Linked DNA regions of Homo sapiens. The protein of the gene in region 3 interacts with the protein of the main gene of each other region in a pairwise test. Each region holds a gene or a part of one and is shown on either strand. Other genes may lie near its edges. The genes, in order: RNF11, KRT34, TENT5B and TNS2.

Region 1 (7,029 bases), about 24 Mb from region 3:
TTCCAGAAGAACTAGGTGATGATGAGGGATGAGGGGTTTTTGGTGTCATGAAGGAACTTTTTTTGGAAATGTTATATTTTTGACAGTGGGAGTTTTTTATGGTTGCAGTTTCCTGAAGTGAATGACGCAGACTAATATACAAATTCAGTATCAATCAGAAGAAAATTACTTTAAAACATGGGAGCATAAAAAGAAACTTTTGGAGAAAAAGTATTGTCCCCCACCCCCAAAGAAATAAGATCTGTCTTAGGAATGGTTATTTTAGATGATCTGAGAAACAGCAATCCAAGGTTATTTATTCATTTATTTGAGTTGAGAATCTCCCTCTGTCATCCAGGTTAGACTGGATTGCTCACTTGGCAGCCTCAAACTCCTGGCTTCAGGTGATCCTCCTCCCTCAGCCTCCCAAAGACTGGGATTACAGGCGTTAGCTACCTCACACAGCAGATTTATAGTATTCTCAGTTGATAAAAGTAACTTTTTCAACAAATTATATGTAATTAACAGTGAATAGCTGATTGTAAAGGAACATGTTCTCTTGAGGTGAGTAGTTAAAAGATGTCATTGTTTGCTGCTTTATATGTACAATGTACATATAATGACAAGAGCCAGTTACAGTTATTTCCTATTAACATCTGACAAATTTGTTTTTATTTATTTTTGCCTTAAAGTAAATCCCTGCACCATTATGATCCAAGTTTGTAGGAAGTGTATATTTCTTTCCATGGTTTCTTTTGTAGCCTCCTAACAGTTATCCCTGCTTTCACCCTTGTCCTCGCTAAGGCCTGTCCTCAATACAACAGCCACAGTTATTTTGGTAAAACTGAGCATGACAGTCTCCCCAACCCTCTGTGTGGATCCTTGTTTCATTCAAAGTAAAAATCAGATTCCTTATAGTGTCGCATAAACCCTACATAATCTGTACCCCTTGTTTCCACGCATGTCCCTTGACACCTACAGCTAACCCCTTTGTTGGCTTCCCTCCAGCTTCCCTGTCCTCATTGCTATTCTAGGACCTTTGTCCTCCTTATTCTGGAATACTCTTCCCCAGATTTCATGGCTGACTGACTCCCTTACCTCCTTCAAGTCTTTTCTCACTGCCCCCTTAAACCTTCTCTGACCACCCTGTTTGAAAGTGCAACCTGCCCTAATAACCTGGAAGTCCCTCTCACCCTGTTGTTTTCCCCCCCAATACCATTTATTACATTCCAACATGTGTTAGAAAGTTGCGTTGTCTATTACCTGTCTTCTCCCACTAGGTAGAAAGGAGGAAAGGGGATTTTTTTTTTTAATTGGTGTTTCCTAAGTACTTATAACAGTGCCTGGCACATGTTAGGCATTCAGTAATTTGGTTGAACGAATGAATAGATTTCTTTTAAATGAACTAATGTATTTGAGGCAGGTATAGTTGCACTGCTTACAAGAACTCTGCATATTCCTAGTGCCATTTTTGCTTCTATATTGTAGATCAGGTTTTTTTTTGTTTGTTTTTTTGTTTTGTGACTGGGCCTCCCTGTGTTACCCAGGCTGGTCTCTCTCTGTATATATATGTTTGGGTTTTTTTGTTTTCTCTTTTTTGAGACCAAGTCTCACCTTGTTGCCCAGCTAGAGTGCAGTGGTGTCATCTTGGCTCTGCCTCTTGGGTTCAAGCGATTCTCCTGCCTCAGCCTCTGGAGTAGTTGGTACTACAGGCATGCGCCACCAAGGCCAACTGATTTTTGTACTTTTGGTAGAGATGGAGTTTTGCCATGTTGACCAGGCTGGTCTCAAACTCCTGACTTCAGGTGATCTGCCCACCTTGGCCTTCCAGAGTGCTGGGATTACAGGCGTAAGCCCCTGAGCCTGCCCTTTATATTTTTTAAATTTAAAAAATAGAGACAGGGTCTCATTATGTTGCTAGTCTCAAACTCCTGGGCTCAAGGGATACTCCTGCCTCAGCCTCTTGAGTAGCTAGGGTTACAGGTGCACTTCTACTCTGCCTGGCTCAGGTTTTAAAAAAAATTTATTTCCTTTAGAGATGAGGTCTTGCTGTGTTGCCCAGGCTGGAGGGCAGTAGCTATTCACAGGTGCAATTATAGTGCATTGCAGCCTCCACTTCCTGGTCTCAAAGGATCTTGTGGCTTCAGCCTCCTGAGTAGCTGGGACTACAGGGTTACACCACCGTGTCTAGCTGTTGTAGATCAGTTTTAAGGAATCCTAAAAAGTCAAATTCCAGTAATATTAAATACAGCAATTGGTTTACACTAAGTGTTAAGTGATTTAGGGGTTTTTACCGTGTATATATATCACCGCAAGATATTTATGTAATGGGAAAGTACTTGGGGGAGAAAAAGAAAGTACTTGAATCCCTATTCTTGAAGTATTGGATGCAAAGAGATTTAGGGTGTTTGTCAAATTAGAAAGTAGAAACAAATTTGTCGCACCCTCTACCCAACTCCCTTATTCCTAAATGTTTAAAAATAATACAGAGGAAATCTGCCCAGCGAAGGCAATCTTGGAAGGACAGTGAGTGGGAGGATAAGCCAGGAAAGGCTGAAGAAGGGAGGTCCATGAGAGGGGGAGGCCAGGTAGGCAGCCCAGCCCTGAAAGGCATATGTAAAACAGCTTGAGGTACCCCTGTGTCACTGTCAAGAGCTTTGTTATGTGCTAAATTGAGGGAGGCACTTTGTTAAAAGAGTGTAATATTCATTGAACAACAAACCATGTTACATTTTCTAATCTGAATATATAAAAATAAGGATAGGTGTCTCTCAATTTTGCAGTAGTTATATAGTTTGAGATTCGCCAGTCTTCTTCCCCGACCTATACTTTTTGATTGATACATTTGAAATTTTAAAATCCTGAGAAAATAAGTTTGTATAGCATTGAATGCAAGTATAGCTCTGCTTTTAGAGTCAGATTGTCCTGTGTTCAAATTCTGGCTCTGCCGCTTACATGTAAAATATGAAAAAGGAAAGAATTTATCAGATTGTTTTGGGGAGCTTTTTTGACAAATAAGAAAATGTAACATTTTGGATATTTCAAATTGTGTCTGCATAAAGCTTTCTTCAAGATACCTTTTTTTTTTTTTTTTTTTGGCTGGGCACAGTGGCTCACACCTGTCATCCCAGCACTTAGGTGGCAGAGGCAGGAGGATCACTTGACCCCAGGAATTCGAGACCAGCCTGGGCAACAAAGTGAGACCCCCATCTCTATTAAAATACCAAACAAAAACAAAAAACAAACAAAACCAAAAACCCTCTTTTGTTGTTAAAAGGATTGGTTTATCCTGTAGAATGCACTAAAAATAACCCCCTTCCTTATAAAAAATCTAGAATGTACTGCTTATTTTTAAGCATGCAATGCTATAATGTTTTGTGGGGGATGGGCTTGTTTTTTTTAGAGATGGAGTCTCACTTTGCCCAGGCTAGTTTCGAACTCCTGGGCTCAAGTGATCCTCCCACCATGTCTCCCAGTGTTGGGATTACGGATGTGAGTCACTGTGCCCTGCCTGTAATGGTATATTAATGCCTCATTTTCCTGATAACTTACGAAGTTAAATTTAGATAATTAAAGGGTTGTGTTTTTTTATTAGCATTTTGTTTAACATTTGGGTGGAAAATATCTCCAAATTTATTTCACGTATCTAGGCCTTATTATACAATTATTCAGCTTTTAACAATTTACCTTTTTGAAGTTTTATCCCTCCCCTTCTTTATGCTCAAGAAGTTCAGCCTTCTTATTGAGGGGCAGATCAACTAACTCCACCTTTGTTAATAAAGCCTTCACTGACCATTTTTTTCCTGTCTCTGCTGATTTGTCATGTACAGTTTTTTTGTGTTTGTAACATTTATCTGGAAATCATATATTGCCTTATTAGCTTTTGTTGCTTTAACAGTTGTTTCTCCACATCAGTTTCCTCAAGAATGAGAATGATACATTAAACTTGTAAGATATCTTAGTGGAGTAGAATGTTACCTTCCATATTGTAGACACCCAGTGAATATTTGATGATAGACTAAATTAGAACTGTGACTTCTTACCTTGTAAGGTCACCATCATAATTGTCCTCATCAGTTCTTACAGCAACATAATTGATGTCTCCTCCTCATTCATTTTATACCATGTTGCCAGATAAATTTCATCCCGGATCAGATCACTTGCCTCATAATCCTTAATGATTGTTATTATTATTATTATTATTTTTTGAAACAGAGTCTTCACTCTGTTGCCCAGGCTGGAGTGCAGTGGTGCCACCTCAGCTCACTGCAGCCTCCGCCTCCCGGGTCCGAGCAATTCTCCTGCCTCAGCCTCCCGAGTAGCTGGGATTACAGGCATGCGCCACCACACCCAGCTAATTTTTGTATTTTTAATAGAAATGGGGTTTCACCATATTGCTCAGGCTGGTGTGCAACTCCTAACCTCAGGTAATCCACTCACCTTGGCCTCCGTAAGAGCTGGGATTACAGGCGTGAGCCACCACGCCCGGCCCTTAATGATTCTTTATTAGGACTAACCACTGAAGATATCTGACTTAGCATTCAAAGTCATGATTTGGCTCTACATATACTTTTTCAGCTCTTCATAGCCTTGTGCTTTCTTTTATACAACCTGTATACTCCAGTCATACTGAGCAGTTTGCTGTATTCCATGTATGTCTTCTGCTTTCCTGTCTTTGCCCATTCTGTATCCATTGCCCAGAATGTTCTTCCTTAATCCTTCCCAGTCTCATTTCTAATATCCAGGGCCCAGTTCAAATGCCAAGAATCCACGAATTCTGATTTCTCCTACATACACTTTTCTTAATCTGAACTCCTTTATTCATGCACCATTCTTAAGACACTTTACCCTTTTAATTTTAATTATTTGTGACAGTGTCACATCTGCTCTTTTAGAATTCAAGTCTGGTTCATTTTCACATTGCTAGAACTACAATTTTCACAAAGCACGCACTTATACTTTAGTGAATGTAATGATCAGCATTTTGCTGTAAGAGTGTGCAATTGTATGGTTGTTAGTGTCTATTAAGCATTCCCAGAATCCTGTGCTTTAGTGTTTGGCCTATCACTTCTAATTTATAAAGTACGTTGAGCTTTGGGAAAGTTAATTTCATTATATATTTTTTGAATTTGTTTTTTTTTTTGTTTGTTTGTTTGAGACGAAGTCTCGCTGTGTCACCCAGGCTGGAGTGCAGTGGCGCGATCTCAGCTCACTGCAAGCTCCGCCTCCCGGGTTCACGCCATTCTCCTGCCTCAGCCTGTCCCGAGTAGCTGGGACTACAGGTGCCCGCCACCACACCTGGCTAATTTTTTGTATTTTTAGTAGGGACGGGGTTTCACCGTGGTCTTGATCTCCTGACCTTGTGATCCTCCTGCCTCGGCCTCCCAAAGTGCTGGGATTACAAGCGTGAGCCACCGCGCCCAGCCTGAATTTGGTTTTGTGTTCCATGAAGTTCAGCTTGCCTAGGTGACTTTTATAAATAAGTAACCAGTTATTTGTTATTTGTGTGACCCCATTGTTGCAGGATTTTTCTTTGTTTCTGCCTGACCTCTCATTCTGAATGTGCTTTAATAAAGGCTGATTTTTTGGCATTAAGATTGTATGCATCACTAAGAGTAAGATAGTCTGTTCAGAGTTTAATTCTAGAGCTAATTATAGGGTAACTTGAGAAGATGGAGATGGGATGGTGAGTTACTTGGTACATAAGATCTGAGCACTTGATTTTCTTAAAATATTTTTTAGGTAATAGTAGAAACCTTTGTTGCAGAATTTTGATCTTTAAAAGTTTTAATAGAAATACTTATGTAGATTGGGATTCTTTTTCTTTCTTTGAGACATAATCTTACTCTGTTGCCTAGGCTGAATGTAGTGGCATGGTCACGGCTCACTGAAGCCTCAACCTCACGGGCCCAAGCCATCCTCCCACCTCAGCCTCCTGAGTAGCTGGGACTATAGGCGTGCACCACTTTGCCTGGCTAATTTTTATTTTTTGTAGAGACGGGTCAAGCAGTCCTCCCATCTCAGTCTCCTGAATAGCTGGGACCACAGGTGCATACCACCACACCCAGCTATTTTTTGTATTTTTAGTAGAGACGGGGTCTCACTATATTGCCCAGGCTGGTCTCAAACTCCTGAACTCAAGCAGTCCACCCACCTCGGCCTCCCAAAGTGCTGAGATTACAAGTGTGAGCCACCATGCCCACCCAACAGCCTTTTTTTTTGGAGATGGAGTCTTACTCCATCGCCCAGGCTGGAGTGCAGTGGTGCAGTCTCAGCCCACTGCAACTTCTGCCACCTGGGTTCAAGCGATTCTCATGCCTCAGCCTCCTGAGTAGCTGGGATTAGAGGCAAGCACCACCACACCTGGCTAATTTTTTGTATTTTTAGTAGAGATGGGGTTTCACCATGTTGGCCAGACTGGTCTTAACTCCTGACCTCGTGATCCACCCACCTAGGCCTACCAAAGTGCTGAGATTACAGGCGTGAGCTACTGGGCTGGACACCAACAGCCTATTTTTAATAACCCATATGAGTACAGGACAGAAATACATCCCTAACTCTGTACCTGAAGTAAGGAAGGTAATACATAAAAGACATATTTGCAAACGACTTGAGGCAAGAAAAGAAATACAACACATCTCTAATTCTGATTGTATCTGCAATCAACCTCTTATCACTTCCCTCTTCATGTGCAGAATTTACCTTGGCTGAGACACAGTCAAGAAAGAAGACAGGTGGCCAGGCACAGTGGCTCACACCTGTAATCTCAGTACTTTGGGAGGCTGAGGTGGGCGGGTCACCTGAGGTTAGGAGTTTGAGACCAGCCTGACCAACATAGAGAAACCCCGTCTCTACTAAAAATGCAAAAATAGCCGGGTGTGGTGGCACATGCCTGTAATCCCAGCTACTTGGGAGGCTGAGGCAGGAGAATCTCTTGAACCCAGGAGGTGGAGGTTGTGTTGAGGCTAGGTTGCGCTGTTGCACTCTAGCCTGGGCAACAAGAGTGAAACTCCATCTCAACAACAACAACAAAAAAGAAGACGACAGGCT
Region 2 (7,691 bases), on a different chromosome or scaffold from region 3:
AAACAAAACAAAAACAAAATAACCATAATTAAAGATGCTCTGCAAGGCCAGAAGAACAATACACAAAGTGAGAATTTTCAACAAAAAGGCAGAAAATACAAAAAGTACCAAACAGAAATCATGCTGCTGAAAAATACAATAACTGAATTGAAAAATTCAATAGAGGGATTCAATAGCACACTAAATCAAGCAGGAGATAGGATCAGTGAACTCAAAGTCAGGCCATTGGAAATTATCCAGAGGAACAAAAAGAAAAAAGAATAAAAAAGAGTAAAGAAAGCTTAAGAGATGTATGGGACATCATCAGGCAGACCAACATTCACATTAGGAAGATCCAGAAGGAGAAGAGAGAGAGAAAGTTTAGAAAACTTATTAAAAAAAATAATGGCTCAAAACTCCTGAAACCTGAGAAAGAACATTGACATCCAGATCCAGGAAGCCCAGTGTATCCCAAATAAGATGTTCAGATAAATCAAAGTGATACACATTATAATTGAATTGTCAGAAGTCAAAGACAAATAGGGAATTTTGAAAGCAGCAAGAGAAAAGTGACATCATGTACAAGGGAACCTCCATAAGGTAATTAATACATTTCTTAGCAGAAACTTTGCAGGCCGGAAGGACATGGGATAATATATTTAAAGTGCTGAAAACAAACCAACCAACCAACAAACAAACTGCCAACCAAGAATATCATTCCCAGTACAATTATCCTTCAAAACTGAAGGAGAGATACAGACTTTTATAGATAAACAAAAGCTGAGGTAGTTCATCATCGCTGGACCTGCCTTACAAAAAATGTTAAAGGAAGTTCTTTAAGTTGGAACAAAAGGATGTTAAACAGTAATATAAATGCATGTGAAAGTATAAAACTTGCTGGTAAATGTAAATATACTGATAAATATAGACTACTGTAATACTATAATGGTGGTAGGTAAATCACTCTTTTAATTCTACTATAAAATTTATTTATTTATTTATTTATTTATTTATTTATTTATTTATTTATTTATTTTTGAGACAGAGTTTCACTCTTGTCACCCAGGCTGGTATGCAGTGGTGTGATCTTGGCTCACTGCAACCTCCGCCTCCCGGGTTCAAGCGATTCTCCTGTCTCAGCCTCCTGAGTAGCTGGGATTATAGGTGCCTGCCACCACGCCCAGCTAATATTTATATTTTTAGTACAGACAGAGTTTCTCCATGTTGGCCAGGATGTTCTCGAACTCCTGACCTCAGGTGATCTGCCCTCCTCAGCCTCCAAAAGTGCTGGGATTATAGGTGTGAGCCACCACACTTGGCCCTCTACTATAAAATTTAAAAGATAAAAGTATTAAAAATAACTATAACTATAAAAATAGGTTAATGCATATGCAATATAACAAGATGTAAATAATGACATCAATACATAAAAGATGTGTGTGGGAGAAGCAAAAGAGTAGTTTTTGTATGCAGTGAAAGTTATCAGCTGAAAACAGACAGTTATAAGTTGTTTCATATAAGCCCTATGATGATCACAAAAAAATACCTATAGAAGATACACAAAAGAAAAAGAAAAAAGAATAAAAACATATCGATACAAAAATCCATGCAACACAAAGGAAGACAGCAAGATAGGAAAAGAGAGACAAAAGAACTCTGAGAAAGACAAAAGAATTAACAAAATGGCAATATTAGTCTTTCCCTATCAATAATTTATTGAAATGTAAATGAATTAAACTCTCCAATCAAAAGACATGGAGTAGCTGAATGGATTTTCAAAAAACCAACAAGTACTATCTACATACTATCTAGAAGAGACTGACTTTAGATTTAAAGACAATGTATAGGCTGAAAGTGAAGGAATGGGAAAAAAAATATTCCGTACAAATGGTAACCAAAAGACAGCAGGATGGCTGTACTTATATATCAGACAAAATAGTCTTTAAGTCAAAAATTGTCACAAAAGGCAAAGAAGAACATTATATAATAATGAAAAAATTCACCAGGAAGATATAACAATTGCACACATATATGAACCCAACATCAGAGCACCTAATATATATATAACAAACATTGACAGAACCAAAGGGAGAAATGGACAATGCAATAATAGAAGAATTCAGTAACTCACTTTTGATAATGAATAGAACATTCAGATAGAAAATCAACAAGGAAACAACAGATTTGAGCAATACTATAGAACAAATGGACCTAACAAATAACACGTTCTATCCAATGGTAGCAGAATGCATATTCTCCAGTGCATGCGGAACATTGTCCAGGATAGATCATATGTTGGGTCACAAAACAAGTCTTAACGAATTTAAGAGGATTGAAATCATACTAAGTATCTTTTCCTACCACAATGGAATGAAACTAGAAAACTAGAACGGAAATAAGAAAAAAACTGAAAAATACACAAATATGTAGAAATTAAAAAACATTTAAATAATCAATGGGTCAAAGAAGAAATCAAAAAGGAAATTAGAAAATATCTTGAGACAAATGAAAATGAGAACACAACGTATCAAAATTTATGGGATGCAGCAAAAGCAGTACTAAGAGGAAAGTTTTATATATGTATATACATAAACCTATATCTAAACATACACACACGCCTACCATGTACCTACAAAAATTAAAAAATTAAAAAAGATAAAGAACAAACTAAGCTCAAAGTTAGCAGCAGGAAGGATATAATAACACTTTTTGCTCTAAATTTTATTATGATACTTACGATAAAACTTAGAGCAGAAATAAATAAAAATAGAGACTAGAAAAACAATAGCAAAAAATCAATGAAACAGAGTTTTTTTGAAAGACACAGAAAATTTACAAACCTCTAGATAGACTAAGAAAAAAAGAGGAAACACTCAAATAAATAAAATCGAAGATGTGCTTTTCTGCTCCTCTCATGCTGCTTTTGAAATTCAGATGCAGCCTTCTTTAAATGATTTGTATTGTGTTCCACAAATAATCTTTTGGGACTTCTTTCTGAAACATGACTTTGTTTCCCTGCGGAACAAAGGCAAGGTAGAGTGACAGGGAAAAGAAGTGAGGTAGGGAAGGCTATTCTGTGAAGAGTGATTATTGGGCAATAGAGAGGCTCCCTAGGTTATGCAAGAGTCAAAGGGTAACTGGATCCCAGAGGTGATAGAAGCACACTTATCAGAGACAGTGTCTACTTGTAGGGACAACAGAGTAAATCTGCATTCTCATGGGCACTGTGGCTTGTCCTGGAAGCATCTCAGGCTGGCATAGTCATACCTCTAGGAGAGTTAATACTCTAGAAAGAGGAACAAGTCTAGAAATAAGATGATAGAAATTTCCAGAGAATTTGAGAAAAAGCCACCATGGATACAAAGATACCTCTGAGCACCCTTGCTCCAATTTTCGTTTCTTGGTGAGTCTGCAGTATTATGCTTCATATTCATGCTTCAGTGCTGCCATCTGAACTCTCACTGCTCCAGACTGTTTCCAGCATATTTTTTCTTCTAGATATTTCTACTCTTGCTCATCTTTAGAGAGGCTGTTGCTTTAGTACAAGTTGGCAAATTTTTTAATTTTAGGGCTTTGTGGACACTATAGTCTCTGTCACAACTACACAACTCTGCCACTGTAGCACAAAAGCAGCCATATACAATAGCTAAACAAATGGGCATGGCTGTGTTCCATTAAAACTTTATTTACTGCCGGACGCATTGGCTCACGCCTGTAATCCCAGCACTTTGGGAGGCCGAGGCGGGCGGATCACGAGTTCAGGAGTTCAAGAGCAGCCTGGCCAACATGGTGAAACCCCATTTCTGCTAAAAACACAAAAATTAGCCGGGTGTGGTGGCGGGCACCTGTAATCCCAGCTACTCGGGGGGCTGAGGCAGATAATTGCTTGAACCCGGGAGGTGGAGGTTGCAGTGAGCCGAGATCGTGCCACTGCACTCCAGCCTGGGCGACAGAGTGAGACTCTGTCTCAAAAAAAAAAAAACAGAAAACAAACAAACAAAAACTTTATTTACAAAAATTCAGCAGGGTAAACTTGACGTGTGGGCTGCCATTTGCAGATGCCCTCTTTTAGGTATACTCCCATCCATTCCATTGGTTTCCATTTTACTTTCTCATTTCTCAACCATGAACATGCCATTGTTTTCAGTTGCTCCATGTGTTGGCAAGTTCCCTAAACCCCAACGAATAGTAAGGCTCAGGATCATTTCGGCGAATACAGGTTGAGTTTCTGCTATAAAAACAAATTGAATGCTGAAACATGGATGAATGTGGGAGGAAAGAGCTACTTGGAAGAGTAACTCTCAAAGCTCTCTCTCAGAGCTCTCTCTCTGGGGAGAAAGAACAGTGGCGGAAACTCCTGGGTGAGGAATCCCTGATTCCCAAACAACTCCACCCCATGTCCCTGGCTGTCCTCCCCTCTGAGTAATGCAGACAGCCTTTTGGGGCTGTGATGATTCTATCTCCTATGAAGCCATCTGATGAAACTCTGATTTCACCAACCACTAGCACCCAGGAAGAGCCTGGTGTGACATAAGCTGAATGGAATAATTTTATGGGTTGAGGGGGGACTCTTTAGAAGCATCTAACTAGCATATTTTGGAGAAAAATTAGCTGAAGCATTAGGAAAGGAAACTATGCTGTATGCCAAGCCCCCACCCACAATTAATGGTATAAAAGGACTGCAGAGGAAGGAGAGACTCAAACCTGCCCACATCCACCTCCAGCAGCTTACCTGCTTTTCCATTACCTGTTCCAGCACCATGTCTTACAGTTGTTGCCTGCCCAGCCTGGGCTGCCGCACCAGCTGCTCCTCCCGGCCCTGCGTGCCCCCCAGCTGCCACGGCTACACCCTGCCTGGGGCCTGCAACATCCCCGCCAATGTGAGCAACTGCAACTGGTTCTGTGAGGGCTCCTTCAATGGCAGCGAGAAGGAGACTATGCAGTTCCTGAACGACCGCCTGGCCAGCTACCTGGAGAAGGTGCGTCAGCTGGAGCGGGACAACGCGGAGCTGGAGAAACTCATCCAGGAGCGGTCCCAGCAGCAGGAGCCCTTGCTGTGCCCCAGCTACCAGTCCTACTTCAAGACCATTGAGGAGCTCCAGCAGAAGGTGAGGGGGTTGGCCATATGGGGGGCCAGCAGCAGCTGGCTCTCTTTGAACAGTAAGACATTTTCAAGTTCAAGTGTACCTCATGAGAGAAATTTCTTTTCAGATTCTGTGTGCCAAGGCTGAGAATGCCAGGCTGGTGGTGAACATTGACAATGCCAAGCTGGCCTCTGACGACTTCAGAAGCAAGTATGTTGAACTTCAAGGTCCCTATGGTTCTTTCATGGCCCTAGGGACCTACTATTGCCTGGAAGAGAGGAGAAAGCCATTTCTCTCTATTTCTCCTCCTAGGGCTGGTTATGTAAAATTAGTTTCAAATAGGGAACTAGACTCATGTGCTGCCTGCTCTTTGGTCTATACTGGTTTTTTTTGGAAGTGTTTCTTAAACCACAAAATTCAGAGATTGAAATGAATTGTTCTTTGGGAATTGATTTGGTGGTATATTAGCTAACAAAACCGAGAACACAGTGAGAGACTTCATCTCATGTGTGCCTGTGGGCTCCTCGTGGTGTTAGGTGAGTCAGGGAACCTCTTCAGCCTATCCATGGACAGCTTGACTGAAGCATATGGAAGAGAAGAGGCAGAAAACTGTAAGTTCAAGAAGATTCAGGCCAATTCTACCCAAACAACACATGAGAGGGGAAGGTGGTTTTCTTTCCTGACTTATCCTCCCACTCCGACACGTGCAGGTACCAGACGGAGCAGTCCCTGAGGCTGTTGGTGGAGTCGGACATCAACAGCATACGCAGGATCCTGGATGAGCTGACCCTCTGCAAGTCTGACCTGGAGTCCCAGGTGGAGTCCCTGAGGGAGGAGCTGATCTGCTTGAAGAAGAACCATGAGGAGGTATGAAACAAATTCACAAAAGCAGGCCTCAGAACTAAGCTACTAGCACTGGGAATCAGGAGAGGATTACTGTCTGGATCCCTGGTCTGGGACCCTTCTCTGAGGAACTCAAGATGTTCTCAGAGAGTGACGGTGCTACATCCATATCAAGGAGTGGAGTGAGCTGCTCATTCTTCAGCGGCTGGGTGAGGGTTAGGCAGGTGTTGGAATTACTGAGGAGGGACATCATTCATTGAGCCCTGCTCTCTGCTGATCACTGCTAGGTCCTGAATTTGGTGGTGGAGATGGAGGGACAAAAAAGAAATAAGACATGGCCCTTTTCTTAAAAGAGCTCACAGTCTAGTATAGAAAGACAGTCATATAAACACAGTGATATAAACAAGACAGAGTGAAACAAGTACCATATGAGATGTACAAGCAGTATGCTCTAGAAATAATCCAGGCTGCCCAAGAGGAGATAGGGAACTCTTCTCAGATGCAAAGAGGAGGATTCCAGTACTTGGGTGTTTCAGTCTGAGGGAAGAGGTTGAACAAAGACACAGAAGTGGCAGGGCAGGGTGTATCTGGGTATGGCTGGGCATGCAGTACCTCCAAGGGATGAAAGTGAAGATGTGATGGGAAGCGAGGAAGGACTTGCATATGCCAAGGAGTTTAGACTTAGTCTTGTAGAAGGTGTGAGGTTGTTTCCGTTTCTATGGGACAACAATTGACGTGATCCCTGTTGGAGTTTATTGCTATAAAATGTGTGTGTCACTCTTTGGGAATGATCAGAATCTTCCTTTTAGTGCTTTTTTTTTTTTGACGGAGTCATGCTCTGTCACCAGGCTGGAGTGCAGTGGCGTGATCTAGGCTCACTGTAACATCCGACTCCCTGGTTCAAGTGATTCACTTGCCTCAGCCTCCTGAGTAGCTGGGATTACAGGCACATGCCACCACGCCCAGCTAATTTTTGTATTGTTAGTAGAGATGGGGTTTCACCATGTTGGCTAGGATGGTTTCGATCTCCTGACTTCGTGATCCACCTGCCTCTGCCTCCCAAAGTGCTGGGATTACAGGCTTGAGCCACTGTGCCCGGCCCCTTTTAGTGCTTTCTGGGCAGCATCAAGCTCATTTTCCCAGAGCAGGAAGATGGCACATCTTCCATGGGACAGCAATTGATGTGATCCCTGTTGGAGTTTATTGCTATAAAATGTGTGTGTCACTCTTTGGGAATGATCAGAATATTCCTTTTAGTGCTTTTTGGGCAGTATTGTGCTCATTTCCCTGGAGCAGGAAAATGGCAGATCCATTGCCGTAGGTTCATTGTTTCCCTTTTCTCCAACAGGAGGTTAACACCCTGCGCTCCCAGCTTGGAGACCGCCTCAACGTGGAGGTGGACACTGCCCCCACTGTGGACCTGAACCAGGTCCTGAACGAGACCAGGAGTCAGTATGAGGCTCTGGTGGAAATTAACCGCAGGGAAGTGGAGCAATGGTTCGCCACGCAGGTGGGCATCTAAGCACATGGCCACTCAGGACCCGAGGTGCCCCAGGGCCCTGGAGACAGGGTCTGATCCTTTCCCCACTTGGGTGTTTCAGACCGAGGAGCTGAACAAGCAGGTGGTATCCAGCTCAGAGCAGCTGCAGTCCTGCCAGGCGGAGATCATCGAGCTGAGACGCACAGTCAACGCCCTGGAGATCGAGCTGCAGGCCCAGCACAACCTGGTGTGTATTGTTCAGACCTGCTGGTGAGCGATGGGAACTTGGGAGGCAGAGTCCCGGG
Region 3 (7,235 bases):
CCAAGGTGGGCAGATCTCTTGAGATCGGGAGTTCGAAACCAGCCTGGACAACATGGTGAAACCCTTTACTAAAAATACAAAAATTAGCCAGGTGTGGGCCTGTAATCCCAGGTACTTGGGAGGCTGAGGCAGGAGAATCATTTGAACCTGGGAGGTGGAGGTTGCAGTGAGCTGAGATTGTGCCACTGTGCTCCAGCCTGGCAACACAGTGAGGCTCTGTCTCAAAAAAAGAAAAAAGTTCTAGAAGGGCAGGGACCTTGCCTATTATTTCTCAGGGCCCAGCCCAGCACCTGGTACACAGATAGGTGCTCAGTATGTATGTTGGCTGATGAATGAATGAATGTATAGATCTTGTGGGTGGTGCCAGGACTGTGCCAAGCATGACTGATCTGTGCTGAGTCTTCTTAGAGGAGCAGTTGAACAATAGGGCTCTGGGGTCAGGAGACCTGGATTTGAGTTCCAAACTGCCAATTAGTGACTGTATAACCTTGGGCATATCACTTAACCTCTCTAAACCTCAGTGTCTTCATCTGTAAATTGGGGATAATGATCCCACATCTTGCGGTGTATCTTTAGGAATTAGAGCTTATGTATGTAAAATAATCTAGTGCATAGTAGGTGTTCAGTAAATGTTAGTTTCCTTTCCCCACACCTCCTTCCTCTGCTGGGGTATGGAGGTGGGGGTAAGAGACAGTGCTGTGGCTGAGCCTCAAGCTCTTTCATCAGTAGCCTCAGAGAGACTTGGTAGTTCAAGGGTTTGGAGACTCTGGACTCAGCCAAAGGCGATTTCTATCTATTTCTTTTCTTTTCTGAGACAGGGTCTCTTTTTGTCACCCAGGCTGGAGTGCAGTGGTGTAAACATGGCTCACTGCAGGCTTGACCTCCCCACCTCAAGCGATTCTCCCACTTCAGCCTCCCAACTAGCTGGGACCACAGGCACGTGCCACCATGCCAGGCTACTTTCTTTTAATTTTTGTAGAGATGAGGTCTCGCTATGAAGGCTGGTCTCAAACTCCTGGTCTCAGATGACTTTCCCACCTCAGCCTCCCAAAGTGCGGGGATTACAGGCATGAGCTACCACTTCCGGCTGCTATCTTTTTTTTTTTAATTTATTTTTATTTATTTATTTATTTTGAGATGGAGTCTTGCTCTGTCGCCCAGGCTGGAGTGCAGTGGCACGATCTCAGCTTACTGGAACTTCCGCCTCCTGGGTTCAAGCAATTCTCCTGCCTCAGCCTCCCAAGTAGCTGGGACTACAGGCACGTGCCACCACACCCGGCTAATTTTTTGTATTTTTAGTAGAGACAGGGTTTCACCATATTGGTCAGGCTGGTCTTGAACTCCTGACCTTATGATCCGCCTGCTTCAGCCTCCCAAAGTGGTGAGATTACAGGAGTGAACAACCGCACCTGGCCTTTTTAAAATTTTTATATAGAGATGAGGTCTCCCTATGTTTTTATGTAGAGATGAGGTCTCCCTGGTCTTACAGGCATGAACCACTGGTCCCCTCCATTTCTTAGCTTTCAAGAAAAGGTAAAACAAAGCAGGCACTTGCCTTGAGGATGATGAAAGGGACTTCCCCAAGGTCACGTGGTCAAGCAGTAGCACAAGTAGTGTGTCCCCTCCCTGAGGGCCAGAGGAAGCCCCTGATCCTAGACAAGATGGAGTGAAGCGAGATGGGCAGCCTCTTGCCTGGGCTCGCCTCCAGAAAGAGGAAGTGGCTGCTCTGTTGTGAGAGTCAGGCTCCTGGGTTTTAGTTCCAGGTCTGTCAGAGTCAACCTGATGGCATTGGGATGTAGTTTACTGTTTCTAGGTCATGATTTCTCCTGTAAATTTGGTGTATTACTCCTTCCCAACCTGCCTGACAGGCGAATGGGAGAATATTACGAGAATGAAATTTAATTTAATATATTGTTAGGAGAACTTTTTTTTGAGAGAGAGAGAGTATAACTATTGTTGCCTAGGCTGGAGTGCAATGGCACAGATCTCGGCTCACTGCAATCTCCGCCTCCCAGGTTCAAGCGATTCTCCTGCCTCAGCCTCCCGAGTAGTTGGGAATACAGGTGCTACAGGTGCCTACCACCACGCCCAGCTAATTTTTTGTATTTTTAGTAGAAATGGGGTTTCACCATGTTAGCCAGGCTGGTCTCAAACTCTTGACCTCAGGTGATCTGCCTGCCTCAGCCTCCCAAAGTGCTGGGATTACAGGCGTGAGCCACCGTGCCTGGTCAGGAGAACAATATTTAAGAAAAAAAATTGCAGCAATGAATCAGATAGACTCAATTTCTGAATTTTTGCTACAGCACATGTTTAAAATCAGAAAAAAAAATTAAAAGCAACAGGTGAGGTTGGGGAAAAATAAAAGTAATAACAGGCCAGGCACAGTAGTTGACACCTGTAATCCCTGCACTTCAGGAGGCTGAAGTGGGCAGATCACTTGAGCCCAGGAGTTCAAGACCAGCCTGGGCAACATGGCCAGACCCTTATCTCTACAAAAAAAAAAAAAAAAACAGAAAAATTAGCTGGGTGCTGTGGCGTGTGCCTGTAGTCCTAGCTACTCAGGAGGCTGGGATTGGGAGGATTGCTTGAGCCAGGGTGGTTGAGGCTGTGGTGAGCCATGATCATGACAGTCAACTCCAGTCCAGGCAACAGAGTGAGACCCTCTCTCAAAAAATAAATAAATAGATAAAAATAAAAAATAAAAGTAACGACAATCATAAGCCTCATCCCCTAGGTCCTGTAAAGTGTGAGAGCAAAACATGTAAACATATTTTTTTTAAATTATGTTTTGTCTAGACCTGCAGAAAAACATGTAAACACATTATTCGTTCTCTAGCTCCAGAAAGGAGCTGGGTCTGCATAGGTACAGTGGAAAAAACATGCACCACAGATTCTATAGCCCTGGTTGAGGACCAGGGCCTTACTAGTTTGCTGTGTGACAGTCGGGTAATCACAAAGCCTCTCTGAGCAGATCTCTCCTTCCCTAAATTGGCTATGCTGTACATCAACGCTCATCATGCTGTGGTTTGCGAGGCCAATCAACAGTGTCTTAGAAAGCCTTTACTTTAGGGCCGGGCACAGTGGCTCACGCCTGTAATCCCAGCACTTTGGGGGTCGAGGTGGGTGGATCACAAGGTCAGGAGTTCAAGACCAGCCTGGCCAATATGGTGAAACCCCCGTGTCTACTAAAAACACAAAAAAATTAGCCGGGCTTGGTGGCGCATGCCTGTAATCCCAGCTAATCGGGAGGCTGAGGCAGGAGAATTGCTTGAACCCGGGAGGCGGAGCTTGCGGTAAGCCAAGATCGCGCCACTACACTCCAGCCTGGGTGACAAAGCGAGACTCTGTCTCGAGAAAAAAAAAAAAAAAAAAAAAAAAAAAGGCCTTTACCTTGGTATGCAGAGTTTATTATTATTATTAATTTTTTTTTTTTTGAGGCGGAGTCTCGCTCTGTCGCCCAGGCTGGGGTGCAGTGGCGCAATCTCGGCTCACTGCAAGCTCCGCCTCCCGGGTTCACGCCATTCTCCTGCCTCAGCCTCCCGAGTAGCTGGGACTACAGGCGCCCGCCACACACCCGGCTAATTTTTTGTATTTTTAGTAAAGACGGGGTTTCACCGTGTTAGCCAGGATGGTCTCGATCTCCTGACCTTGTCATCCGCCCACCTCGGCCTCCCAAAGTGCTGGGATTACAGGCGTGAGCCACCGCGCCGGGCCCAGAGTTGTTTATTATACCTTTCCTAGGCTCTGGAAAACTGCCAGAGCATGAGCAGTGCTGTGCAGAGTTGATCACGTGGCTCAATCTCTTTGGGCTTCTGAAAATAGCAGGACAAGGCTAGGTGACTTCTCAATTTCTTCCAGCGCTAAAAAAAAAAAACAGAAACCTGGAATTTCTCAGTGGTCTGACTCTGCTACAAACTCCGCAGGTCACTTCCCTCCCTCCTGACCCTGGCGGGGCGGGGTGGGCGCTGTCCCTTTAAGTCCAGGCCCGGGCCAATCACAGTGAACAGAAGTTCTTTAAGGACCAAAGGAGGGAATTCAGCCTGAGAAGGAGGGCGGGGCAGGGGCGTGCCCTCTAGCCAATCGGAATCTCCCTAGAGAACAGTGACTCACGTGCAAAGCTCTACAGACCAGTGTCCGGAGCGTTCAGAGGCGGGGCGGCTCTCGCTGTTGGCAGCGGCCCGGACCAATGGGCACGTCGCCCGCGGCCTATAAGAGTCCGCTGGGCCGCGGGCTGCAGGCGCTAGGGTCGGTTAGTCGTCGCCGTCTGAGGTGTTCCCTGGCTTTGTCTCGCCGTCGTTGCCGCCCCGTCCCTGCCTTCGTGCCCCCCGCCTTGGCCCCTGCCCAGCCGCTCTCCCTGTCCTCCTCCCCTTAACCACCCCCACGGTTTCTGCCGTCGGGGCCCGGGGGCCGGGCGGATGATGCCGTCGGAGAGCGGAGCTGAGCGCAGGGACCGGGCGGCTGCTCAGGTGGGGACGGCTGCGGCCACGGCGGTGGCCACGGCAGCCCCGGCAGGCGGCGGCCCCGACCCGGAGGCCTTATCGGCCTTCCCCGGACGGCACCTGAGTGGGCTGAGCTGGCCACAGGTGAAGCGACTGGACGCTCTTCTGAGCGAGCCGATTCCCATTCACGGGCGCGGCAACTTCCCCACGCTGAGCGTGCAGCCCCGGCAGATCGTGCAGGTGAGAGGACGCCAGGCGGGGGATGTGGGGGAATCCCTTCTGAGGCTCTCGTGGCTGGAAGGCATTTGTAGTCTGTTTGACTTTCTAGACAGCTAGGGAAACTGAGGAACGGGGACATGGCTGTAACAATTGCACAGCATTATGAATGGTAGACCAGACCTCCCCCTGCATCTACTAATCCTTCCCCACCTGGCTTTTCCATCTCGACTCTTGGAGAACCCTGATTCCCCACGGATCACTCACCCAGGGCCTGGCTGGGAGAGGGGAGGAGGATGTCAAGGGCATTGGGGGAAGAATTTGTCTCTGCCTGCAAGGACAAAAGACGCCAGGTGGCCCTGGGTGGGTAAGTGTGCATGCTTGAGTCCAAAATAGCTTTTCCTTCCCTATCTGGGCATCCCTGGACCTCACCCTCCTTTCCTCTCTCGAGGTTCTAGGAGCAGCCTCTGCCATTGTGCTCCTACAGCCTTTTGCTGGAGAAACCCCCCCTTCCCCCTCCACCCCGTGGAAAAGCCAAGAAAACTTGTCAGGGACTCCCTCTCTCTCAGCTGGGGTTGTGGCCCAATATTTATTAAGCCGAAGGTCAGACCTGATACCCCACCCCCAAGGGCAACATTAAGTGACCAATTTAGGTGTTTCTTCTCCTTCCCAAGATTGGAAATGAAGGCCAACCCAGGCCTCAGGCCCCACGTCCTCTCTCTCCTGAGGAAAGGGAGAAGAGAATTCTGACAGCCCCTCCCTCCTCCAACTCTTCCCTTTATCTGAACCTCAACGACCCCAAGACTGCTTTTTCATCTGTACAGCCCAGACGCTGTCATGTTCTGAAATACCACAGTGTGGTCATTATTGTACCCATTTTATAGCTGGGGCAGTTTGCCACCCAAGATTACTTAATGAGGTGAAAATCAAACCTAGGGAATTTTGGGTCTTCCCAGGAGCAGATTACAGTAGGTTCAATGTTTTCCCACCCCTTCCCCGGCTCCCAAGGTCAACTTCTAGGTGTTAGGGAGGGTCCTTTGATAAAAGAAACCAAGAAACCCAGCGAGGACTCCTGTGCGTTCCTGCCAACTGATGGCTTCCTTTGGATGAAGTAGGCCTTTCCCCTGCCTCCTACTACCTTGGCTTCCCACAGAGGGGGAGGGTTGCCTGCTGGGGGATTACCTCCCCCACCCTCCCAAGGAACTAGGAACTGGAGGGGGCGGGGGCAGATTCTCCTTGGCTGACTCACACGCGGCCCAGTGGAGTTCGCCGAGGCATTCCTCGGCTGCTCGCTGTCACCTGGGTGATTAGGAAACCAGTCGAGGCTTTAATCCCCGGGACAGTCAAGTCATTCCTGGGGCCCCAGCTGCTGCACCTCCAGGATTGTGGCCCCAGGCATGGCAGGGAGGGGAAGGTGGAGCCCAGTGTGGCAGCCCCCCTCTGCAAGAACAAGGGATACCCTGGAAGGAGGAGAAGTCCTTGCCCTGTCAGTATGGCTCAGATTGCCTCTTGGTGTCTGCTCTGTGCCAAGCCCTGTTTAGGAAACCAAGGGCACAGATGTGACTAGGACTCAGCCTCCATCCCTTCAGGTGCTCCTAGCCAGATGGGGGAGACTCCAGGTCAATAGAAGCTAACTTTACAATGCAATGGTGGTGCCATGTCCTTCTAGACCTGGGTCAGAGATAGCACAGAACAGGGAGCTGTCGGCGATGGTGAGGAAGGGCAGCAGAGACTTCAGAGCTGGGCTGGGAAGTTGGACTTCTGGATTCAGGCCCTGGACTGTTTGTTGTCAATTCTCTTTGCTGGGCTCAGTGTCCCCATCTGTTCAACTGGGATGGATAGATTAGGCTGCTGCTCTCCAACACCCTCTCTGGTTCCAGACTCCAAAGGGGACAGGTGCCTTCACCTGGTCTGTACAGCTGCCTCCACAGCGAAGAAAGTTTCTTGGAAGAAATCCACAGCTGGCAGCTTCTAAAGCTGTTGGGATGTGTGCAGGGATGGGGGCGGGGAGAGGGGGAGGGTGGTGTCGGTTGTTGCCTTGGGGCTTTTCACTGCTGCTGAGTTGTCCTATGGCTCAAAAATTGGAACCTTTCTCCCTCTACCCCCCTGCAAGGCTTTGCCTGTAGTGGCAATCTGAGTGGCTAGAGATTCTGTTCTTGCTTGTACCTGTACTAAAGGGACTCACCCTACTGTAAGGAGCCTTCCCAGAGCTACAGGCAGGGAGGCCTTTTATTGGTTGTGTAACCTTGGACAAGTCCTTTGCCTTCTCTGGGCCCAGAGGATTGAACTAGACAATCTGATTTCTCCAGCTGCAGCCAGAGGGCCTGCATCAGGCGGCAGAGCATGTGAGTTTTGTAAGCCTGCTGGCTGACGGCGTCTGTCAGTCTCCCTGCAGGTCTCAGCAGCAGCCTGGAGCAGAGTGGTTGTGGGGAGGGCCTTGGCATGGGAGAAAGGAGGGTGCAGCCACTGCCCCCTCCATGGCTGGAAAGTCTGATTCAGGAGGCACCAAGCTGCCCTGCAGTACTTGGGTGTGGTGGTATCTGGTGACCGTCTGCCAAACTGGCTGTAGTCACACCTGGG
Region 4 (4,844 bases), on a different chromosome or scaffold from region 3:
TGCCCAGCATATGGCCGTGTGCCTCATAGCTGTGGCTCTCCAGGAGAGGGCAGAGGGTATCCCAGCCCTGGTGCCCACTCCCCACGGGCTGGCTCCATTTCCCCGGGCAGCCCGCCCTATCCACAATCTAGGAAGCTGAGCTACGAGATCCCTACGGAGGAGGGAGGGGACAGGTACCCATTGCCTGGGCACCTGGCCTCAGCAGGACCTTTGGCATCTGCAGGTGAGGGGCACCAGAGTGCGGAGTGCCCAGGGCAGAGGAGGTTCTGGAAGATGGTGGGGAAGTCAAGGGGGAACAGGGTGAGAAACAGCTAAGCCAGACAGAAGAGCCCCATCCTGCTCACAGCCCACCTCTCCCCTTCACTGCAGAGTCGCTGGAGCCGGTGTCCTGGAGGGAGGGCCCCAGTGGGCACAGCACACTGCCTCGGTCTCCCCGAGATGCCCCATGCAGTGCTTCGTCAGAGTTGTCTGGTCCCTCCACGCCCCTGCACACCAGCAGTCCAGTCCAGGGCAAGGAAAGGTATGCAGAGGGGCCGGGGATGCTCGAGTGCTTTCTTGTCCAAGCAGTTGATGAAGGCAGGTGGGGTGGGAGCAGCCACAATGGGGGCTCTGCTGACCATCTGCCCTTCCACCCTACAGCACCCGGCGACAGGACACCAGGTCCCCCACCTCAGCGCCCACTCAGAGACTGAGTCCTGGCGAGGCCTTGCCCCCTGTTTCCCAGGCAGGCACCGGAAAGGCCCCTGAGCTGCCGTCGGGAAGTGGGCCTGAGCCTCTGGCCCCTAGCCCAGTCTCTCCGACCTTCCCTCCCAGCTCGCCCAGTGACTGGCCTCAGGAAAGGAGTCCAGGGGGCCACTCAGATGGCGCCAGTCCTCGGAGCCCTGTGCCCACCACACTTCCTGGCCTCCGCCACGCCCCCTGGCAAGGCCCTCGAGGCCCCCCCGACAGCCCAGATGGGTCTCCCCTCACTCCTGTGCCTTCCCAGATGCCCTGGCTTGTGGCCAGCCCAGAGCCGCCTCAGAGCTCACCTACACCTGCTTTCCCCCTGGCTGCCTCCTATGACACCAATGGCCTTAGCCAGCCCCCACTTCCTGAGAAACGCCACCTGCCCGGGCCGGGGCAACAGCCAGGACCCTGGGGCCCAGAGCAGGCATCATCGCCAGCCAGAGGCATCAGTCACCATGTCACCTTCGCACCTCTGCTCTCAGATAATGTCCCCCAAACCCCAGGTATAAAGGCCTTGAGGGGGTTGGTGCCACCTTGAGAGAACCCTTTCTCCTGGGATGTAGCATGGATGGGGACCCGGGTACCCTGGGGTCTGAACCTACTCCCTCCCTGTCCTAGAGCCTCCTACACAAGAGAGCCAAAGCAATGTCAAGTTTGTCCAGGATACATCCAAGTTCTGGTACAAGCCACACCTGTCCCGTGACCAAGGTGAGAAGCCAGCCTGCCCCCACCCCACTGCATCCCACCTTCCAGGGTGTCTGTCTTGGCTTTAAGTCCCATCCTGTTGAAGCTCTTGGCTCCTCCTGTCTGAGCTGTGTTTACTCTTGGCTGAGTGTTTACCAGCAGGTGATTCTGGGCTTTGGGCCAAGGCGGTGAGATCCAACATGGTCAAAACCCCTGTGAACTCTAGAGCCCTGGCCTCAGACTCTTACCGCCACCACAGCTGTCAGGGCAGAGACCATGGAGCTTGGCAGCAGAGGAGGGGGGCTGCATGGGGCTCAGTCCACCCCTGTGAAAACTCCTCCCCACTGCCCGCTACCCCTCACCCTGCAGCCATTGCCCTGCTGAAGGACAAGGACCCTGGGGCCTTCCTGATCAGGGACAGTCATTCATTCCAAGGAGCTTATGGGCTGGCCCTCAAGGTGGCCACACCGCCACCCAGTGCCCAGCCCTGGAAAGGTACAGAACACCCAAACCTGAGTGGGGTGGGGATGAAGTTGGGGGTGGTGCCAGAGGCAAGGTAACAGGGCAGGTGGGGGTGCTGTGCTGGCCATGCCGCTGTAGAGGGGAGAGGTAGGAAAAGACCTCAGCTGCTCGGGAAAGAATCCCATTAGGGAAGAAGCTGGAACCTGGAATCCTAAAGCCGCAATCTTCCCCTCGCCTCCTCTCAGGGGACCCCGTGGAACAGCTGGTCCGCCATTTCCTCATCGAGACTGGGCCCAAAGGGGTGAAGATCAAGGGCTGCCCCAGTGAGCCCTACTTTGGTGAGAAGCAGGAGCCTGGGGAAGGCTACGTTGGGTCGGTTTAGGGAGATGCCAAGGGATCTCAGGAGGATGGAAGGGAAAGGCGGGGCACCCTGGGCATCTCGGGACTTTCCTACCTCCTCTCCCACAGGCAGCCTGTCCGCCTTGGTCTCCCAGCACTCCATCTCCCCCATCTCCCTGCCCTGCTGCCTGCGCATTCCCAGCAAAGGTGAGTGTCTGGTCATCTGTCCTCCCCACCTCTCCCTACCCCCTGCAGCCAAAGCAGGATCCAGAGGTCTTGGCTCCCCGCCTTCCCTTGGGGAAGCAGAGGGAGTGCTCCAGCCTGGGGAACACTCTGCCTTCTGAGCTTCCCTGTCGGTTCTCATTGCCCTCAGATCCTCTGGAAGAGACCCCAGAGGCTCCAGTGCCCACCAACATGAGCACAGCGGCAGACCTCCTGCGTCAGGGTGCTGGTAGAGACTTCCCCTCCACTCCCCTCCCTCTCCCTGGGCACCAAGGGGGCATTGTGGATACAGGGCATGGGGCACTGAAAGGCCTTGAGGTGGGTGAGCCCTGGCCAACCCATGAGGGCAGGGGAGCCCCATACTGTCGGGGATGAGGAATTGGGTCCTCAGCCTAGGTTCTCAAAGTCTCATGAACAAGACGATCATGGGGTGGTAGCAGGGAGGCTTCTCTGCCTCGCTTCTGACTGTAGATCCAGTAGAGTCATGGAATCTGCCTTTTTAACAAGTCACCTATGTGATTGTAAAGCATGTGACAGCAGTAGCTGGGGAATGTGCAAGAGCTGGTGGGGGTGGCTAGGGGATGGGCACTCCCTCCCTGACCCACTCCCTGCCCCTGTAGCCTGCAGCGTGCTCTACTTGACCTCAGTGGAGACAGAGTCACTGACGGGCCCCCAAGCTGTGGCCCGGGCCAGCTCTGCAGCTCTGAGCTGTAGCCCCCGCCCGACACCAGCTGTTGTCCACTTCAAGGTGTCAGCCCAGGGCATTACACTGACGGACAACCAAAGGAAGTATGTATACTCAGCCCTGTAGAACCCCATGCTTAAGGCCCCTGGGGGCTCATGTTTCTGAGTGTGACCTTCCTCACCCTCCTCCTTGCAGGCTCTTCTTTCGCCGCCATTATCCAGTGAACAGCATCACCTTCTCCAGCACTGACCCTCAAGACCGGAGGTGACTCTCCCTCCAAACCCTTTGCCCCAAATCCCCATGGTCCCACCAGGTCCCAGCTCCCAGCCCCAGCCCCAGCCCCGGCCCCGGCCCCCCTTCAGCAGCTGTCCCCTGGGGTGTGCATCTTCACCTTCTTCTCCTTCTGCAGATGGACCAACCCAGACGGGACCACCTCCAAGTAAGCCTCCCCACGAATTCAGCCTCTTCCTTCCAAGGGACCAGGGCGCTGCTGTCCTCTCAATGCTGGCATTTGATTTGTCTCACCAAGGCCAGCTACATTCCCTTGTGGAAGGAATGTTAAGCCCCTTCCCCACCCTTTATCCCCCTAGGATCTTTGGTTTCGTGGCCAAGAAGCCGGGAAGCCCCTGGGAGAATGTGTGTCACCTCTTTGCAGAGCTTGACCCAGATCAGCCTGCTGGCGCCATTGTCACCTTCATCACCAAAGTTCTACTGGGCCAGAGAAAATGAAGGAAGGCCACAAGCTCAGAGCCCACATCAACACTGCCCCCCTCCCAGCACCCCACAGCCCTCACATCCCCTGGCCTGGACCCAGGAGACCCAGGAGAAAGCACCCTCCCTTAGGAATGAGGAGTGGGCATCAGGCCTGGGACACTGCTCTCCTTCCCCGCCCCCAGCCTGCTAAGTTAAGTGGACAGGCCCACAAGATGACCTTGCATGTGAGCAGATGGCAGAGATGGGTGTGTGAGGGGTGAGGAGGCATCAGCAGTTGAGCCCCGAAGGAGATCAGGCAGCCCCACCTGCAGGAGAACGTCAGCCCTCCAGGGGATCAGCCCCTGCCAGTTCCACCCAGCTGCAGGTGCCAGCACGGCAGGGATGGGAGAGGGGTGGGGAGCGAGTCACTGCCTCCTCTGAGCAGAGATTCAGAGTAGGATCACATGAATAGGGGAAAAAAGAGAGTCTATTTTTGTCTAATAATAAAGAATTTCTATAAACTTTAGCCGAAATTGGAGTCAACACTTATTCACAGGAAGGTCAAAGCCTCATCTCCCAGGGGACGTATCTGTGCTCAGGCCTGTAGCCAGGCCCATGGAACATATGATTCCCATCCCTGGCCCAACATTGGTCCACATCTCCCCATGAGCAAGCTGCCTTCGGCTGCCCCCATCCAGCAGTCCTGTTCCTAGCCCAGTGGACTAGAAAGGCTCCTGGTTCCGGCCATACTGATAAATACGGAAACTCCATCTTTATCGGCTGTATAAACATCTCTGGTCTGTACATACATTTCATACATCGTAGGGTGGGAAGCGAGGGCCAAAGGGAGGCCCAGCAGCACAACAGCTCACCCGCTTTCCCTACAGCCCTACCCGCTCTGTGCAAACCAAGGCCAACAGCTCCTGCTGCCTCTTCCTCCCTGGAAAAGTCACTGTTACGGGGAGGGGGCCAGGGGTTGAAGGATTAGAAGGAGATAGAGGGCTTGGTGGGGAGGACACATGTAAGTGCTAGA

The links.
Region 1: the proteins of TENT5B (region 3) and RNF11 interact in binary tests that used the Homo sapiens proteins (3 or more experiments, as listed by UniProt).
Region 2: the proteins of TENT5B (region 3) and KRT34 interact in binary tests that used the Homo sapiens proteins (3 or more experiments, as listed by UniProt).
Region 4: the proteins of TENT5B (region 3) and TNS2 interact in binary tests that used the Homo sapiens proteins (3 or more experiments, as listed by UniProt).

What each region holds. Positions count from the first base shown.
Region 1 is NC_000001.11:51,239,269-51,246,297, forward strand, and holds part of RNF11 (RING finger protein 11), read left to right. Parts: intron 1-7,029. UniProt on the Homo sapiens protein: Essential component of a ubiquitin-editing protein complex, comprising also TNFAIP3, ITCH and TAX1BP1, that ensures the transient nature of inflammatory signaling pathways. Promotes the association of TNFAIP3 to RIPK1 after TNF stimulation.
Region 2 is NC_000017.11:41,379,295-41,386,985, reverse strand, and holds the start of KRT34 (keratin, type I cuticular Ha4), read left to right. Parts: upstream 1-4,679; 5' UTR 4,680-4,735; coding exon of another isoform or gene 4,736-4,739; coding exon 4,740-5,087; intron 5,088-5,190; coding exon 5,191-5,273; intron 5,274-5,773; coding exon 5,774-5,930; intron 5,931-7,254; coding exon 7,255-7,416; intron 7,417-7,507; coding exon 7,508-7,633; intron 7,634-7,691.
Region 3 is NC_000001.11:27,009,851-27,017,085, reverse strand, and holds the start of TENT5B (terminal nucleotidyltransferase 5B), read left to right. Parts: upstream 1-4,235; 5' UTR 4,236-4,415; coding exon 4,416-4,679; intron 4,680-7,235. UniProt on the Homo sapiens protein: Catalyzes the transfer of one adenosine molecule from an ATP to an mRNA poly(A) tail bearing a 3'-OH terminal group in an ATP hydrolysis-dependent manner.
Region 4 is NC_000012.12:53,060,036-53,064,879, forward strand, and holds the end of TNS2 (tensin-2), read left to right. Parts: coding exon 1-223; intron 224-369; coding exon 370-520; intron 521-639; coding exon 640-1,229; intron 1,230-1,344; coding exon 1,345-1,434; intron 1,435-1,779; coding exon 1,780-1,905; intron 1,906-2,117; coding exon 2,118-2,210; intron 2,211-2,340; coding exon 2,341-2,418; intron 2,419-2,584; coding exon 2,585-2,662; intron 2,663-3,053; coding exon 3,054-3,222; intron 3,223-3,313; coding exon 3,314-3,382; intron 3,383-3,527; coding exon 3,528-3,557; intron 3,558-3,708; coding exon 3,709-3,847; 3' UTR 3,848-4,344; downstream 4,345-4,844. UniProt on the Homo sapiens protein: Tyrosine-protein phosphatase which regulates cell motility, proliferation and muscle-response to insulin. Phosphatase activity is mediated by binding to phosphatidylinositol-3,4,5-triphosphate (PtdIns(3,4,5)P3) via the SH2 domain.